Linked DNA regions of Homo sapiens: region 2 is linked to region 1. The links come from fine-mapping of genetic effects on gene expression. Tissue or cell type: whole blood. Region 1 holds a variant in brackets; the other region holds the start of a gene. All regions are shown on one strand. Distances are between the middles of the regions.

Region 1 (8,100 bases):
ACCCCGGAGGCTGCTACTTAGCGCCAGATTAATCACACCGAATTCTCCATCCAGATATTGCGTGCAGGCCGAACTCCCACCGCTAATCGCCGTAATATTCTCCTCGGCGTGTGCAGGCGGCCGGGGCGATGTTCCAGGAATATTAATTCTCCACAGCCGGCTCACTCCCGCCGCACGCATGCGCCCCCTGCACCGCCGGCTGCTGCTTGGGGAGCGGGGGTCAGCCAGGGGGACAAGGGCCAGCAGGAGGCAGGGCTGGGCCCCAATCCTTGCTGGGGGCCAGGGCCAGAGGTGGGCCAGAGCCTGCAGCAGGGCCTGCCCCCTTCATCCTGTCTCTTCTCCCAGTCCTGACCCCCAGTACCCTGCCCTAGGATGTGCAGGAGGCTCGGGGCCCCTGAGAAGCGGCCCAGCACAGGCCGTCTGATGTCCTCTCAACACAGCAGAGCTCCGAGGAACTGGCAGCCAGGGGCTAGCTAATCCCAGCCAAAACACACGGAATGAGAATCGTTCAGAATCTTTCATCTGCTCAAAATATAAAAACCCCAGTGAAGGGAGGCTGGGTCAGCTGTGGGTGTGACCAGGCCATGGAGCGGGCAGGCTGGGGGCACGTGGGAGGCCTCTGCTCCTGACCTTTGCTTAGCACAGGCAGGGGACCCTCTCCCCACAGTGTGGCCTGTGATATTAGAGCCAAGGGCAGGCTGGGAGGGAAAGGCTTCTGGTTTCTGGAGGGTACCAGAGGAGAAGGAGCGCGTGCCCCTGAGCCCACTCGCTGTGGCTGCAGCATACACCGCTGGGCCTGCCCCTTCAGCGTTGGTCGCTGGGCTAACACTAGGCCTGGGGATGAGGCTGGGATGAGATGCTGGCCTCAAGGACAATTCAAGGCAATTCAAGGACGAGGTCAGCCTCCCAGAGCACACAGGGGCCTTGGGGCAGGCCTGCTGCCCATCCTGGTCCACTGAAGACCCTAGAACAGTGCTGGGAGGACTCACATCTTCAGGGGCTTTGCAAAGCACCCCCTCTTACCTTACCTCGGTACAACCTCAGTACAACCATGAGAGGCAGCTTGAAAATGCCCATTTACAAATAAGGAAACTGAGGCATGGAGAGGTGAAGTAAGGGGTCCAGCCAGATCCGTCCCCAGGCTGCCAGGATCGGAACCTAGGGTCCTCTCCTCTGGACAGTGGAGCCTCACTCCATGCCCCATCCTTCCCGTCTCTGGGACTCCATCTCCTCTTCTCTGAACATTTTAAGGTCCTCCCAGTCCCCACAAACTGTCCAACAAACACAAGCATTTATTGAGTGCCTCCTGTGTGCCAGGGATCCAGAAATGCATGATGTTACTTAAGAAGCTCACAGTCTGGTGGAAAGGAAAGTAAGTAAACCAATGACCGCGGTCCAGCCTGAGCCCCAGGGGAGGGGCCCTCCCCACAGCCTTGGGGTTAGACAGGGCTTCCAGGAGGAAGCATTCCCTGAGGAGAGGGCAGTGTGTGGAGCGGCAAAGGAAGGGGATCTCCATACTAGAGTCTCGACCAGGGTAGACAGATGTGTGTCCTGAGCCCGCTGGAGGTCATAGGCCTCAGGGCTGCCCCTCGGCAAAGCAGCTGGACCGTCTGGACTATGAGCCCTGGGGCAGCAGCAGCAGTGCCTGTGCTGGGACCGCCTCTGGGAGATGTCATCTGCCAAGAGAGCAGTTTTCCTGATGGTGCATGCAGCAAAGGCAGCCCCTGCATGGGGAATCAGAGGAGAGCAAGAAGGGTGTGGCTGAGAGGGGAACAGATGGGGTGCTGGGCAGGACTGCTGTGGATCCAGGTGGATCCTGACCCGGCTGCCTGGCCTAGCCCAGGCTGGGCAAAGGTGGAGTCCTGGGGCCACAAGATGCCTAGGAGGGGCCTCTTGAGCCAGGGTCTCCTGATTCTGGTCCAGAGCACAGATACACACAAAGGCAGCCCAGCCTAAAGAAGCAAGCAGAAGGGCTAGCGTGAGGGGGTGGGGCCCTACCCAATTCCTTTCCAGCACAGATTAAGAGCATCCAAGTTGAAACCACAGATGTGAGGGAGGAAGGTCAGGCCCCTGGCTCCATGATCCTCCCTGACAACAGCCAGCACCTATTGTCTCCTGCCCCTGTGGACCTGAGGTCTCTGACCTGGGTAAAAGCAGGCACCTCTCACACACCACCCCTCGTATGAGACCCGTGAGCACTAATGGGGCCTCACTCCCATTTCTTAGATAAAGAAACTTAGCACAGCACCCATAGGCCCTCCTGTCATGCTGGGCTCTCTGCCCATAGTCTCACAGGGTATGGACGAGGGTCAGCACCCCCATTTTGCAAGAAGAAAGCTCACCCAGGTCCCACGGCGGTAGTAGGCAATACCTTACAGTTCCCAGGGTTGGGCCTGCGTGTTCCGTGTCCTGATCCGCTGAGGCCCCAGTGCTAAAATCAGGCCACGTGCACTAGGTCAAGGATGCCACAGAAGGAGCCCTTTCTGGCCTCATCCTGCCCTGCAGTCCCCAAACATGGTTCTGTGCCCTGGACTCACTTGACAGATGAGGAATCCGAGGCAGAGCTGGGACTCAGCTAGGACCCAGCACATACGCTGAGGATAGGGACATAACAAGGGCTCAGCCTGGCCCTCAATGAGGTAACATCCTGCGTGTCAACTGTAACCAAGGTAGGTTGTGAGATGCCAGAAGAGTGGGCAGCACGGTGGCCTGGATAAATCCCAGAAGGCATCCCAGAAGAGGGGGTGTTTAAGCAGGAACTTGGAGGACAAGGAGGCCTGTTTGAGCTGCAAAGCAGCACACACCTGGGACACAGGACCCCACGGCTAGGAAGACAAGGCTCGGATTGGATTCTCAGGCCTCTCTGCTCCCAGCCAGCCCCTCTGCGCCTCCAGGGCCGGCCGAGCACTAGCCCAGGCCCAGGAGAATCTACTGAATGACCGGGTCTCAGCTTGAGCGGCACAGACACATGGCTGGTGTGACCCTTCCACTGTCCCCAGCGCTGGATACTAGATCCCACATCCCCCTCCCACTCTGTCCTGCCCACCAGGAGTGGCGGGGTTTGAATTTCAGGAGCTGGGCCTCATAGGCAGGGCAGAAAGGCCAGGGAGTGGGGCCCAGCTCTGGGGCAAGGCAGGGCAGGATACAAAGCCCCGGGGCCAGCTCCCAGCAGGAGGCCTCCTGGCCAGGCCCAAGCCCAGGAGGAGGCCAAGTGTCCTTCCTTGGCACCTTCCCTAAAAGATTCAATAGTGTAGTGTTGGCCCCCCAG[C/G]CCCTCGAATAGGGGGAAGATCCAAGGTCAGACCCAGCTTCTCCACTCCTGGCTGACTCTGAGCAAACTGCCACCCTGCTCCAGCCCCAGTGTGCTCAACTGAAACAGGAGCTGGATACACCTGTCTTGCAAGGTTATTGCCAGGATTCAGAGTATTGTCCCTAGGTGGGTGCCAAACAAAAAGGGCAAAGGTCAGCTCATTCCCTAGGGCTCGGCATTCAGACAGACCCAGGGGAATAAAACCAGGTGGTTTCCTGGAGGTGGGAATTCCCATTTGACCTCCTTTATCCTGCATGACTACCTGGGGAGGGTGGTTCTCATTCCACAAATGAGAGTCTGAGGACAGCGGGGTGAGGGGGCTCAGCCAAGGTCACAGAGCTCCCAATCTCAGGTGTCCCTGCCTGACTCTGTAAGGGGGTATCTTCAGGCTATGGGAAGGGGAGGGTAGGGAGGAGGCCTGGGGCACCTTAACCAGCCCACTGGCCAACCCTAGCCTAAGGGCAGGCCTGGGGAGGCAAGAGGCTTAGCCCCCAGCTTGGAGTAAGAAAAGAATGCCCTCAGGCTGGGCGCGGTGGCTCAGGCCTGTAATCCCAGCACTTTGGGAGGCCAAGGCGGGCAGATCACGAGGTCAGGAGTTTGAGACCAGCCCGACCAACATGGTGAAACACCGTCTCTACTAACATTACAAAAATTAGCCGGGTGTGGTGGCATGAGCCTGTAATCCCAGCTACTCAGGAGGCTGAGGCAGGAGAATCGCTTGAACCCTGGAGCCGGAGGTTGCAGTGAGGCAAAACTGCACCACAGCACTCCACCCTGGGCCACAAAGGGAGACTCCGTCTCAAAGAACGCCCTCAGCTGCCCATGTCTCCATTTGGGCTCTCACAGGGGCTTGTTTTGAAAGCCAGGAAGTGATAGAGCCCTAGGACAGGAGCCAGGAAGAGCCTGGGAAGTGGGAACATCCCCGCAGGGCCAGCCTCACAGTGGGGAATCCTCCCTCCCCACACACACACCCGCCAGCCCGCTCCACCCCGGTCACATCCTGCCACTGCACCTGCAGTGCGGTGCATTAATAGAGCACAAACCCTGCGTGCACTACACTGGCAGGCACCTGCCAATCTCAGCCCGCGACCCCGCCCTAGCCCCCTCTCCCGGAGGACAGATAATTCTCTTGCTCTCCCAGCCTGACAAAATAACTAATGCTAACTCAATAAAGTTCCCCTTGAAGGTTTTTAATTACCAGACTGTGCTGAAGACTAAAGACTCCAGGAGCGGGAGGGAGGCCAGGGAAGGCTGCTGGGGGTCGGCGTGGCAGAGGCAGGGAAGTCACTGGCAGGCAGTGCTCCCAGGCGAGCAGGTTGGGAAAGGGCCCTCCCTCCCAGCTCCGGGAGAGGGCAGGGCCAGGCTGTTGCTGTCCAGGGTGCTGGGCCCAGCGGTCACAAGGATTTAGGACTCACATTTTCAACAGCGGCCACTGATGGAGGCCAGGCTAGGCTCCTGGCAGGGACTTGATGGAGATTATCTCATTTAGGCCTCACAGCCAACCACAAAGTAGACGCTGATGTCCCAACTCTGTAGATGAGGACAATGAGGCTCAGAGGTGGGCAGTGGCTTGCTGTGGTCACACACCACGCCTGGACTGTCCAACTGCAGCAGGTGCAGGCGGAGTGCCTGGCAGCCTGCAGAGGGGAATACACACCGGTGCTGTGGTTGGGTGGAGGGCCCTGGGGGACAGGGATGACCCTCAGATAGGATCCAAAGGTGCTTGATGGCTTCTGTGCAGGGAGACATGCTGGCGCTGGCAGGATTGAGGCTGCCCAAGGAAACCTACGCGCTGCCTAGAGGCAGGGGCCGCCTGGTTGGGCCCACCTGGAACACCACCAGCCATGGGCAAGGGACCTGAAGACCCAGTGATGAACCCCCACTGCCACTGAGGGAGATGACAGCGTGGGGGGCAGGGCACAGGAGGAGAGAGGGTGACACAGTCTGGTCCCTAAGCCTCCTAACCCCAGCCTGGGCCCTTCCTCCTTGATGGAGAGAGAAGACAGTAACATTTGAGGTGAAGCATACAGCTGCCCCTGCACCATAGCCACCCTAAACTCCTCTTTTGCTGCAGCCTCCCCACCCTCTGTGAGCCAGCCCTACCCTTTCAGCCCCATTCACTCCACACTCCCCACCGCTGGGCTGCCTTCTGGTCCTTCCCACCTGGCAAGCCTGCTGCTGCCTTGGGGCCTCTGCCCTGGCTGTCCCCCTCCCTGAGATGCTCCTCCCTTATGTTTTCTTTTCTTTTTTTTTTTTTTTTTTGAGACAGAGTTTTGCTCTTGTTGCCCGGGCTGGAGTGCAATGGCACAATCTCGGCTCACTGCAACCTCCGCCTCCCAGGTTCAAGCAATTCTCCTGCCTCAGCCTCCTGAGGAGCTGGGATTACAGGCAGGCACCACCACGCCCGGCTAATTTTGTATTTTTAGTAGAGACAGGGTTTCTCCATGTTGAGGCTAGTCTCGAACTCCTAACCTCAAGTGATCCACCCACCTCAGCCTCCCAAAGTGTTGGGATTACAGGCGTGAGCCACCGCGCCCGGCCTACTCCCTTATGTTTTCATACAACCAGCTCATGTCCTTCAGGCCAAAGCCTAAATGACACCTCCTCAGAGAAGCCTTCCTTGAACTCCCCACCTCAGCAGCAGAAATCCTGTGCAGCCTTCAGCCCCAACCCATATACCCATCCCCTCCTCCTCCAGGCAGGCTTTCCACACAGCGTGACCAGTTCCCACATGGTACAGGCTGCCCTCCACAAGACCCTGGGCATCACTGAGGGCATGGACTTTGAAGCCAGCAAGCTGGGGTTCCAATCTTGCCTTCCCCGTTTTCTAGCTATAGATGGATCTGTTTCCTCATCCGTAAAATGGGGGTAAGAACAGTCCTTAGCCCATCTGAGTTTTGTGAGGACTACCGAGTGAAGATGTGTCAGGACTTAGACCCCTGCCTGGCAGGTGAGTGCTTGGCAGTGCAGGATCACCATCATGACCACCATCATCATCTTCAGCAGCAGCCTGGCCTCCCCGAGCCAGGCCTCAGCGAACGGGATGCTGTGTCCTTGACCCCCAGCACAGGCCCTGGACACATGGACACTCAGCAAGTACTGGCTCAGTGTCTGACCCTGTGAGACAGGCCTGAGGATGTGAACAGCTCCCACTGCCCTGGCTGCACTCTTTGCTGCTGCTTTGCAAACCTGCAACGGCGCCAACTTGGGGGTGGTGCCGAGAGCCAGTGCAGCTGTGCCCGGCTCCCCAAGGGCCATGAGGGGCAGTTGGAGGCCCCAACACCCAGCCCTGCCTGGAGTCTCCTGGCCGGGATCACAGCCCTGCGGCGTTCGAGCTGCTGCCCACCAGCCGGCCCCCTGGCATTGGGCCCGGGATGCCAGCCAGCCAGAGAGGAAGCAGCTTGGCTGGCAGCCAGCTCACAGTGCCCGAGCTGTCAGCCGGGAGGCAGGCCAGGCAGGGCTGAGACCCCCACCCCCAAACAGGGCTCCAGCCAGGCAGTGCGACAGGGCCAAGTTTCTCCTCACCACCCGAGCCACAAGGGGGCCCTGCTGATGCCAGCCCCAAGCAGGGCTCAGGGATGTAATCACGCTGCAGGGGGACCCAGGAGGCCCCGTCGCCATTTATTCAGCTCAGCTTTTCGCGAATGAGAAAGCAGCACGAGGAGCAGGGGGAGATTTTCAAGTCAAATAACAGTAAAAACAGCAGCAACTACAGCTGACACTCAGCAAGCACTCACTCCATGCCAGGTGCTCCATGCACTCCGGCACTGACATCTCTCCAAAGGAAGGTGCTATAGTTAAACCCACTCTACAGATGTGGCAACTGAGTTCAGAGAGGTGCAGTAACCCACCCAGAACCACACAGCAAACTGGAGAAGTCAGTTTAAACTTGGGCCCCAGAACCTGTGTCCCAACCCCTATGCACTACTGGTTCAGGCAGGCCTCAGTGCCCATACCCACAATGGATGGCCCAGCTGGGCGACCTTGGGCAAGGAGGCTGCCCATCTGGAAAATGGGCATGATCAGAGAGGGCTACGCTGTAGAACTGACCAGGGGGCTGAAAAAAGAAAAACAGGTGAGGAGCTACTTCCTGTCCCCTGCCAGGCCTGAGCAGAGGTCAGACTCCCTAGCTGGCTTAAGGGTTGGTCATATTCATGGAGCGGCAAGAATGAGGAGTGGGTCCTCATTTGCATTAGACGGTAAATCTAAGGACACTGGTTGTGCCTTCTTTTTACCAGCAACAAGAACTCATCAGAGCCCCTCCCAACCTTCTCCCATCCCCCACTGCCTCCTGAGCACCCTCCAAGGGCACAGCTGGGTGAGCCCCATGGCTGGGCTGGAGGGGCCAGACACTGGGGAGGGGCAGTTCACAGGGTCAGCCATGAAAGCCCATGATCCCTGAGCCTCGAGCTCAGCCCCCAGGAGCTTCCCCTTCATAACCTCTTCTCCCAACCCAGACCAGGCAGACTTAGGAAATACTGGCCAGAGAGAATCTTGAGCCACACAATTCAGACAAATGTGTGTGGACTCCCCTCTTGCCCCACAAACCACAACAGAAGGCCTCGGGTCGCATCCCCCCACCAGCTGGGGCCCCTGTCAGGCAGGGCCCAGCATTCCTGGCTGATGGTGAGGAGATGAGACCCAGGGTGGAAGGAACACATGGAGGGTTCACAGCAGGGCTCCTCTCTGGCACCCATGCAGAGCAGGCAAGGATGAACATGTGCTGGTTTCAGGGCTGGGCCTGGGGGTGCAAAGGTGACCGCTCAGCCCAGCTGCTCACATCTGTACAAAGT
Region 2 (8,081 bases), 200 kb before region 1:
TGAGGAGAGAGGTCATCAGTCAAAGTTGTCAAGTTGAAGGCATATGACACTGAAGGCCAGGATTCTATTCTCTGCTCAGCATGGACTTGTTGAATGACCTTGGGCAAGTAACTACTCTGTCTGGGCAAAGTTTCTATGTCTGGACAATGAGGTGGTCAGGGTAAATCATTTCTGACACTTTTCAGATTCTTTAACTCTGTGGTTAACTGGTACCAAGAGGAGAAACATACAGGTTAACAGGCTCCTATCCCATGACTACCTAACCTGACTGGCTTAACTTATGTTTCTGCTTATCATTTCTTCTGTTACTGACTGGTCTATGCTGAAGCTCCCATTGATGCTAACGTGACTGGCCAGGGGGACAGAATCAGCCCCAGGATTTGAGTCCATTTATACAGGACTCATAACCACCCTAACTGCCTCTTCCAGCTGTAAACTGGCATTCAGATGAAGTGGTAACTTCTAGGGATGAGGTTCAAGAAGAGTTCAAACTTTCCTCCCTATATCTTTTTTTATGGTTATAAAATGCAAGTCCCAGTGGATGTTCCCTTGATGAATCTTATCTATTTAACCAGATGATAACCTCCAAGTTCAAGTATTTCTCTGAAACACAGCAATAATCACTGCCGAACCAGTAGCTGCTTTCTAAACTTGGAGACAAAATGTTCATTTGGAAAGACTAAGAAGTAGTGGACAAGTTGGCTGATCTTTTAAATTGGTCAGGGAGGGTCAGTTACCTTAATGACCAGAAGATCAACCACCCTGGGGTCTGTGACATGGGCATTCTTCATAAACATTTCTCGGACTTTATCCCGTCCCATTTTCACAGTGATGTCCAGCTGGAATTGGTGCACTAGAGAGAAAAACATGACTCAGGGTAGAAATTGTATGGTTAAATAAAACCTAGAGTCAAATGATACTCATTGAACACATACAGGTCGCCCATTCATTTCTTCACCAAAAAATTAGCCTGACCCTAGGCTAGGTGCTTGAGGATGAGACATGTGATTCATGGTATTTGCTCTCAAGGAACTTATTATTTGTTTGGGGAAAAAGACCACTGAATTTGAAGAGGCAGTAAAGCATTGTTCAAGAGTTTGAACAACCTGGGTTCAAATCCCAGCTTTTGTTAGCTATATGATCCCGTGTAAGTTAACTTTCTTGTGCCTGAGTGTATTTTTTAAAAAATTATTTTATGGGCTGGGCGCGGTGGCTCACGCCTGTAATCCCAGCACTTTGGGAGGCCGAGGTGGGCGGATCATGAGGTCAGGAGATCGAGACTACCCTGGCTAACACAGTGAAACCCCGTCTCTACTAAAAATACAAAAAATTAGCCGGGTGTGGTGGTGGGTGCCTGTAATTCCAGCTACTCGGGAGGCTGAGGCAGGAGAATGGTGTGAACCCGGGAGGTGGACCTTGCAGTGAGCCGAGGTCGCACCACTGCACTCCAGCCTGGGTGACAGAGCGAGACTCCGTCTCAAAAAAAATAATAATTATTTTATTAGCTGGGCGCGGTGGCTCACGCCTGTAATCCCAGCACTTTGGGAGGCCAAGGCAGGTGGATCACCTGAGGTCAGGAGTTCAAGACCAGCCTGGCCAACATGGTGAAACCCCGTCTCCACTAAAAATACAAACATGAGCCGGGCATGGTGGTGGGTGCCTGTAATCCCAGCTACTCGGGAGACTGAGGCAGGAGAATCACTTGAACCCGGGAGGTGGAGGGTGCAGTGAGCTGAGATGGGCCACTGCATTCCAGCCTGGGTGACAGAGTGAGACTGTGTCTCAAAAAAAAAAAAAAAAAAAGGCTGGGCGCGGTGGCTCACGCCTGTAATCCCAGCACTTTGGGAGGCCGAGGCGGGTGGATCATGAGGTCAGGAGATCGAGACCATCCTGGCTAACAAGGTGAAACCCCGTCTCTACTAAAAATACAAAAAATTAGCCGGGCGCGGTGGCGGGCGCCTGTAGTCCCAGCTACTCAGGAGGCTGAGGCAGGAGAATGGCGTGAACCCGGGAAGCGGAGCTTGCAGTGAGCCGAGATTGCGCCACTGCAGTCCGCAGTCCGGCCTGGGCGACAGAGCGAGACTCCGTCTCAAAAAAAATAATTATTATTTTATTAGCTGGGCGCGGTGGCTCACGCCTGTAATCCCAGCACTTTGGGAGGCCAAGGCAGGTGGATCACCTGAGGTCAGGAGTTCAAGACAGCCTGGCCAACATGGTGAAACCCCGTTTCTACTAAAAATACAAAAGTTAGCCAGGTGTGGTGGCACGCAACTATAATCCCAGCTACTCGGGAGGCTGAGGCATGGGGAAATCACTTGAACCCGGGAGGTGGAGGTTGCAGTGAGCCAAGATCGCGCCATTGCCCTCCAGCCTGGGAGACAAGAGCGAGACTCTGTCTCAAAAAAAAAAAAAAAAAAAAAAGTGAGTTATCATTACTGTTTTTTTCATTAAATACTTAAAATTTTACTTTTGTTTTTTATTAATGCTCAGGCTGTTCTAAGTTCTCAACACTATTACTTATTCCCCTTCCTTGATTTGATTCCTCAGCTGGAGTCCTGATGATGGATACCATAAAACCCGTGTGGCACAGGTTTGAGTAACTGGCCAGCTACAGATCACTGATCTTCCCCATAGGGATGCATACTCCTTGACCCCTTCTTTTCTCTCCTCTTCCCTTGCTTTCTAGGCTCCTGTAGCCCTCTGCCTTCTTTTCCTCCTCTCAAGACCCTTCTGACTTTGGGACTTTCTTCCCAAAACAGAATTTGAGGGAAGGTCTTGGGAGGGGTCGGTTTAGAAAGAGCTGGATCCTCAGAGTCAGGATACCTGGGTTCTGTCTTCTACTTGGCCACTGATTTACCCTTCACAAGCCACCCTTTTTGAATGTGGTCCTCCTTCCCCCAGCACCTTCCTCCTGCAACCAGAGAGGGTTCTGGGTACTCCTAGAAGTATTCTGCCAGGCAAACATTATGTTTTCAAACTGCTGAATTTGAATGCACCACCCCGAAACACACACACACACACACACACACACACTGCTACAGTCACTCCCCACACACATCTTTTATCTGCCTGCCCCTGAAGGCATCTGAATTTGCAGTCCCTGAACCAGCAGATCACTCAAGTTTCTCCTTCTCTAGTATCGCGTGGGTTTAAGTTCTGGTCAGTAGCAATTTTTCCAAAAGTCAGCTTGAAGACAGGGACTCTGTGGAGCAGACACAGTTCTCATATGTCAAAGAACCGGGTTCTGCTTGGAAGCTGCTGCTAAGGAAAGCCCTATAAATAACAAAAATAACAACAAAAACAACGGCAGCAGCTAATATTTAATGAGTTAAATATGCATCAAGTCCTGTTCTAAGCACTCTAGATATTTTAACTTAATACAGTAACCTTCTGAAGAAGGAATTATTATTCCCATTTTAAAGATGAAGAAACTGAGGAATAGATGAAATAACTGGCCCAAGGTCACACAGCTAGTTGAGGGCAGCGCCTGAAGAAAAGTCCGTGCTCCTAACCACCACATTCTACCGCCTTTTCACACACACAAGCAGGGACTCGACAGCCCTGAGGAGTGGCACCGTGCTCCAGCTCACTCAAAAACACCTCTTTCTCGCACTTTGGGAGGCCGAGACGGGCGGATCACGAGGTCAGGAGATCGAGACCATTCTGGCTAACACGGTGAAATCCCGTCTCTACTAAAAATACAAAAAAAAATGGCCGGCGTGGTGGCGGGCGCCTGTAATCCCAGCTATTCGGGAGGCTGAGGCTGAGGCAGGAGAATGACGTGAATCCGGGAGGCGGAGCTTGCAGTGAGCCGAGATCGCACCACTGCACTCCAGCCTGAGCGACACAGCGAGACTCTGTCACAAACAAAAAAATCCAACGGGCATCTATAATTACACTCTGCAACTCTAGACTTTGGGTTCTGGGTACAACAGTGGCTCGGCCTGGGCCCTGGGCACATCACTTCACCTCTCGGTGCCTCCGCTGCCTCACCCACAAAGTGAGTGTGTCACTGACAGTCATCGTCCTCCCGCCAATTGCGAAGGACAAAAGAGACCAAAGCTCCGATAGCACGTACGAATGCTAGGCACGGCCGGTCTGACCACCGCGCCGCCGCCAGGTCCGGCCCATGGTAGGCTCGGGTGACCCTCTTCCCCTGAAGCACCCGCAGTCGCCTCTGCCCAAGTTGGTGACCTCAGCTGGGCCCATGAGAAACCCCGGCCGGGCCGGCTACGACCTTGAGCGGCGGCCTCCGGGTCCCCACGTAAGCCGCTACCTCTCACCAGTGTTCGGCACCTCCCGATACCAGGCGCGGTAGAGCTCGCGCACCCTCCGCTTGGCCTCGTTCATGTCCCGACTGAAAATGGGCTTCACGAAGGTGCTGGCGGTAGAAGTAGCTTGGCGGACGCCGCTCCCCGCCATCTTGCCAAAGCATCCACTCCACAACCCCACCCCTTTGCAAGCAGCGCGTGCGGACCGCGGGCGAATGTCTTTTCCCATTGGCTAAGGAGGAACGCCCCGCCTGTATGCTGGGTGGGCGGGAGGATGACTCTGAGGCTCTCGGATTGGCTGGGAAGCCTCTCTCTGGCTGAGCGAACGGTGGGTGCTGCGCATGCTCATCTACAGAAACGCCGCTTGGCCTTTGGACTACACCATCTGTCGCTCGCTCTAACGAGCCGGCGTTGCCGCCAGGGGACGCTCGGGCCGCAGGAGGTCGCTGGGTCGTGAGCTGGCGCCGGGGACGCCGAGCGACTGCGGGGTTTCCCTCAGCGTCCTGCTATCCGGCTGCCCGCCGCGCTCCTTGGTAGTGTCCGTGGGCGCGCAGGCCTTGAAGAACCTCCTCGTGGCGGGACCCCGAGGTAACTGCTGAGGCAGATAATGGCGCCTGGGCTGCGGTGGGGCTTGTCCTGCCGCCTGGCGGCTTTCTGCAGGGCCAGGATATACTTACTTTTCTGTAAACCAACTCTTCCTTAGCGCAGGAGAGGTGTCAAAGAGCTGGCGCGTCTCCAGAGCCCCGGGAGGAAGGCTGTAACGGCAGCCCCATCGTAGACAGGGACATTCGCATCCCGAGCCCTGGATCTCTGAAAACCAGCCCAGAATTTGGAAGCTGGAAGGAACTTTAGATCGTCCATTCTGAGTGTCTCTCTTCGCTGGCGTTTTCCCACTGAGGTTATGTAAACATGAAGAGGAGCCTACAAGTGTCAAGGAAAAAACGACAGCTAACCACAGGGCAGGCCATGGGCAAGATATCTCAGTGTTCTCCGCTCTCATAGGTCAGGTAGGTACCTCAGCATCCCCATTTTACAGGTGAGGAAACTGAGATGGCCCAGAGTCTAGGTCACCTGACAGATCGCCCCCACCTGCCTGACTGCTGCCTAAGAGGCTCCGTCTTTTTCTGAAGGTGTAGTTGACAGGAGCCTGTGAGTATTGGGGAAGGGCCAGGGGCCGGGGCTGAGCATCTACTCCAAACTTTCCCATTTCGAAGGGTTAAAAAACCAGATATACTTTTTTTCTTCCTTATTATCTTCTAAAATGTATATATATATTCAAGTGAGCTATACAAAAGAAAGCACGTAACATATATAAATTATAAAGCATAATAATAAAATGGAAGCTTTTGAACCTCAGTACTGACTTAAGAAGTTGTAACACAGTTAAGGTTTGTATAAAGTGTCCTTAGATGTCCTTAGTAGCCACTGTTCTCTAGTTCTCTAGGTACATTAACTTGGCTAGGCTTCACAACACACCAGTGAGATTGTGTTGATATACCCTTTTTTTTTTTTTTTTTTGAGACAGAGTGAGACTCACCTAGGCTGGACTGCAATGGTGCAATCTCGGCTCACTGCAACCTCCGCCTCTCATGTTCAAGCCATTCTCCTGCCTCAGCTTTCCGAATCGCTGGGATTACAGGTGCGCACCACCATGCATGGCTAATGCTTGTATTTTAGTAGAGACGGGGTTTTGCTATGTTGGCCAGGCTGGTCTCAAACTCCTGACTTCAGGTGATCCACCCACCTCAGCCTCCCAAAGTGCTGGGATTACAGGTGTGAGCCACTGCCCCCGGCTGATATACTCATTTTATAGATGAGAAAACTGAGGCACAAAGAGACTAAGTTACTTTACAGCATTGGGGTTGAAGCCCAGGCAGCTGGTGCCAGAGTCAGTTTTCTGACTCTCGCAGCACCTATACCATGATATCTACCTGTATGATTCTAACCTTGTGTATACCCCTGCCTCCTTCAGAAGTACCCACTATCATGATAAATTCATTGTGTTCAACATTCAAAAAAAAAATGGGGCGCAGTGGCTCACTCCTGTAATCCCAACACTTTGGGAGGCCAAGGCAGGTGTATCACCTGATGTCAGGAGTTCGAGACCAGCCTGGCCAACATGGTGAAACCCCCGTCTCTACTAAAAATACAAAAATTAGCCGGCATGGTGGTGGGCACCTGTAATCTCAGCTACTCGGGAGGCTGAGGCAGGAGGATCGCTTGAGCCCGCGAGGTGGAGGTTGCGGTGAGCCAAGATTGCGCCGCTGGACTCCAGTCTGGGCGACAGAGTGAGACCCTGTCTCAAAAGGAAAAGAAAAAAAAGACCTCTAAACAACCCACAAACTGGGAGAAAATTTTTGCAAATCACATGTTCCATAAGGGACTTGTATCTAGGATACATAAAATTCTTACAACTCAGTAATGAAAAGACAAATAGCCAAGTTTAGAAATGGGCAAGGGAGACAACACCAAATGCTGGTGAGGATGTGAAGCAACAGGAACTCTCCTTACTGGTAGGAACGCAAAATGGTACAGCAGCTTTGGAAGACAGTTTGGCTTTCTGACAAAACTAAACATACTCCCATCAGAAGATCCAGCCATTGCATTCCTTAGTGTTTACCCAAATGAGCTGAAAACTTATGTCCACACAGAAACCTGCACATGGATGTTTACAGCAGCTTTTGTTTTTGTTTTTGTTTTTGAGATGGAGTCTCGCTCTGTCACCCAGGGTGGAGTGCAGTGGCGCGATCTCGGCTCACTGGAAGCTCTGCCTCCTGGGTTCACGCCATTCTCCTGCCTCAGCCTCCAAGTAGCTGGGACTACAGGCGCCTGCCACGAAGCCCAGCTAATTTTTTGTATTTTAAGTAGAGACGGGGTTTCACCATGTTAGCCAGGATGGTCTCGATCTCCTGACCTCGTGATCTGCCCGCCTTGGCCTCCCAAAGTTCTGGGACTACAGGCGTGAGCCACCGCTCCCGGCCAGCAGCAGCTTTATTTGTAATTGCCAAAACTTGAAAGCAACCAAGATGTCCTTTAGCAGGTAAATGGATAAATAAACCTTGGTATATCCAGACAATGGACTATATTCAGCACTAGAAAGAAATGAGCTATTAAGCCATGAAAAGGCATGGAGAAACCTTAAATGCATATTAGTAAGTGAAAGAAGACAATCTGAAAGAGCTACATACTGTATGATTCCAACTATATTACATCCTGGAAAAGGCAAAACTATGGAGACAATAAAAAAGATGGCAGGGGCTGGGAGTGGGGAGAAATGCACAGAGGTGGTGCACAGAGAATATTTAGGGTAGTGAAATTACTCTGGATGTTATAATGGTGGATACATGTTATTACACATTTGTCAAACCCTACAGGATGTACAACACCAAGAATGAAACCTAATGTAAACTATGGGATATGGGTGATACTGGTGTGTCAATGTAGCTTCATTGCTTATAACAAATATATCCTCTGGTGCCTGATGTTGTTGGTGGGGGGAGGCTATGAGTGTGTGTGGGGTGGGGGAACCCTGTATTTTCTGTTCAGTTTTGCTGTGAACTCGAAACTGCTCTTAAAGATGAAATTTTTATTTTAATGGGTAAAGTATTTGAATAACCATTTCTCCAAAGAGGATATACGGGTGACCAATAAGTACATGAAAAGACATTCAACATCATGAGCCATTAGGGAAATAAAAATCAAAACCCTCGTGAGATACCATTTCTCACCCAGTAGAATGGCTAGAGTGAAAAAGGCAGACACAGCCAGTCACGGTGGCTCACACCTGTAATCCCAGCATTTTGAGAGGCC

Evidence for each region. PIP is the estimated chance that this variant, and not a neighbour inherited with it, causes the effect.
Region 2: it holds the start of NDUFA6-DT, and the variant in region 1 is fine-mapped to the expression of NDUFA6-DT in whole blood (TOPMed, PIP 0.93).

The regions. Positions count from the first base shown.
Region 1 is chr22:42,289,892-42,297,991 of GRCh38, forward strand. It overlaps a transcript of TCF20 not described here. Among named protein-coding and RNA genes, the nearest start is that of TCF20, 23 kb to the left of the region's middle. RefSeq lists enhancers at 4,742-5,555, 7,870-8,100. The variant C/G (reference allele first, on the strand shown) is at 3,269.
Region 2 is chr22:42,086,323-42,094,403 of GRCh38, forward strand. It overlaps NDUFA6-DT (NDUFA6 divergent transcript), which reads left to right and starts at 4,611. Exons shown (of 5, transcript NR_034118.2): 1 at 4,611-4,859; 2 at 4,975-5,278; 3 at 5,797-5,910. NDUFA6 (NADH:ubiquinone oxidoreductase subunit A6) reads right to left here and starts at 4,450. Exons shown (of 3, transcript NM_002490.6): 1 at 4,284-4,450; 2 at 738-853. The coding sequence starts at 4,422.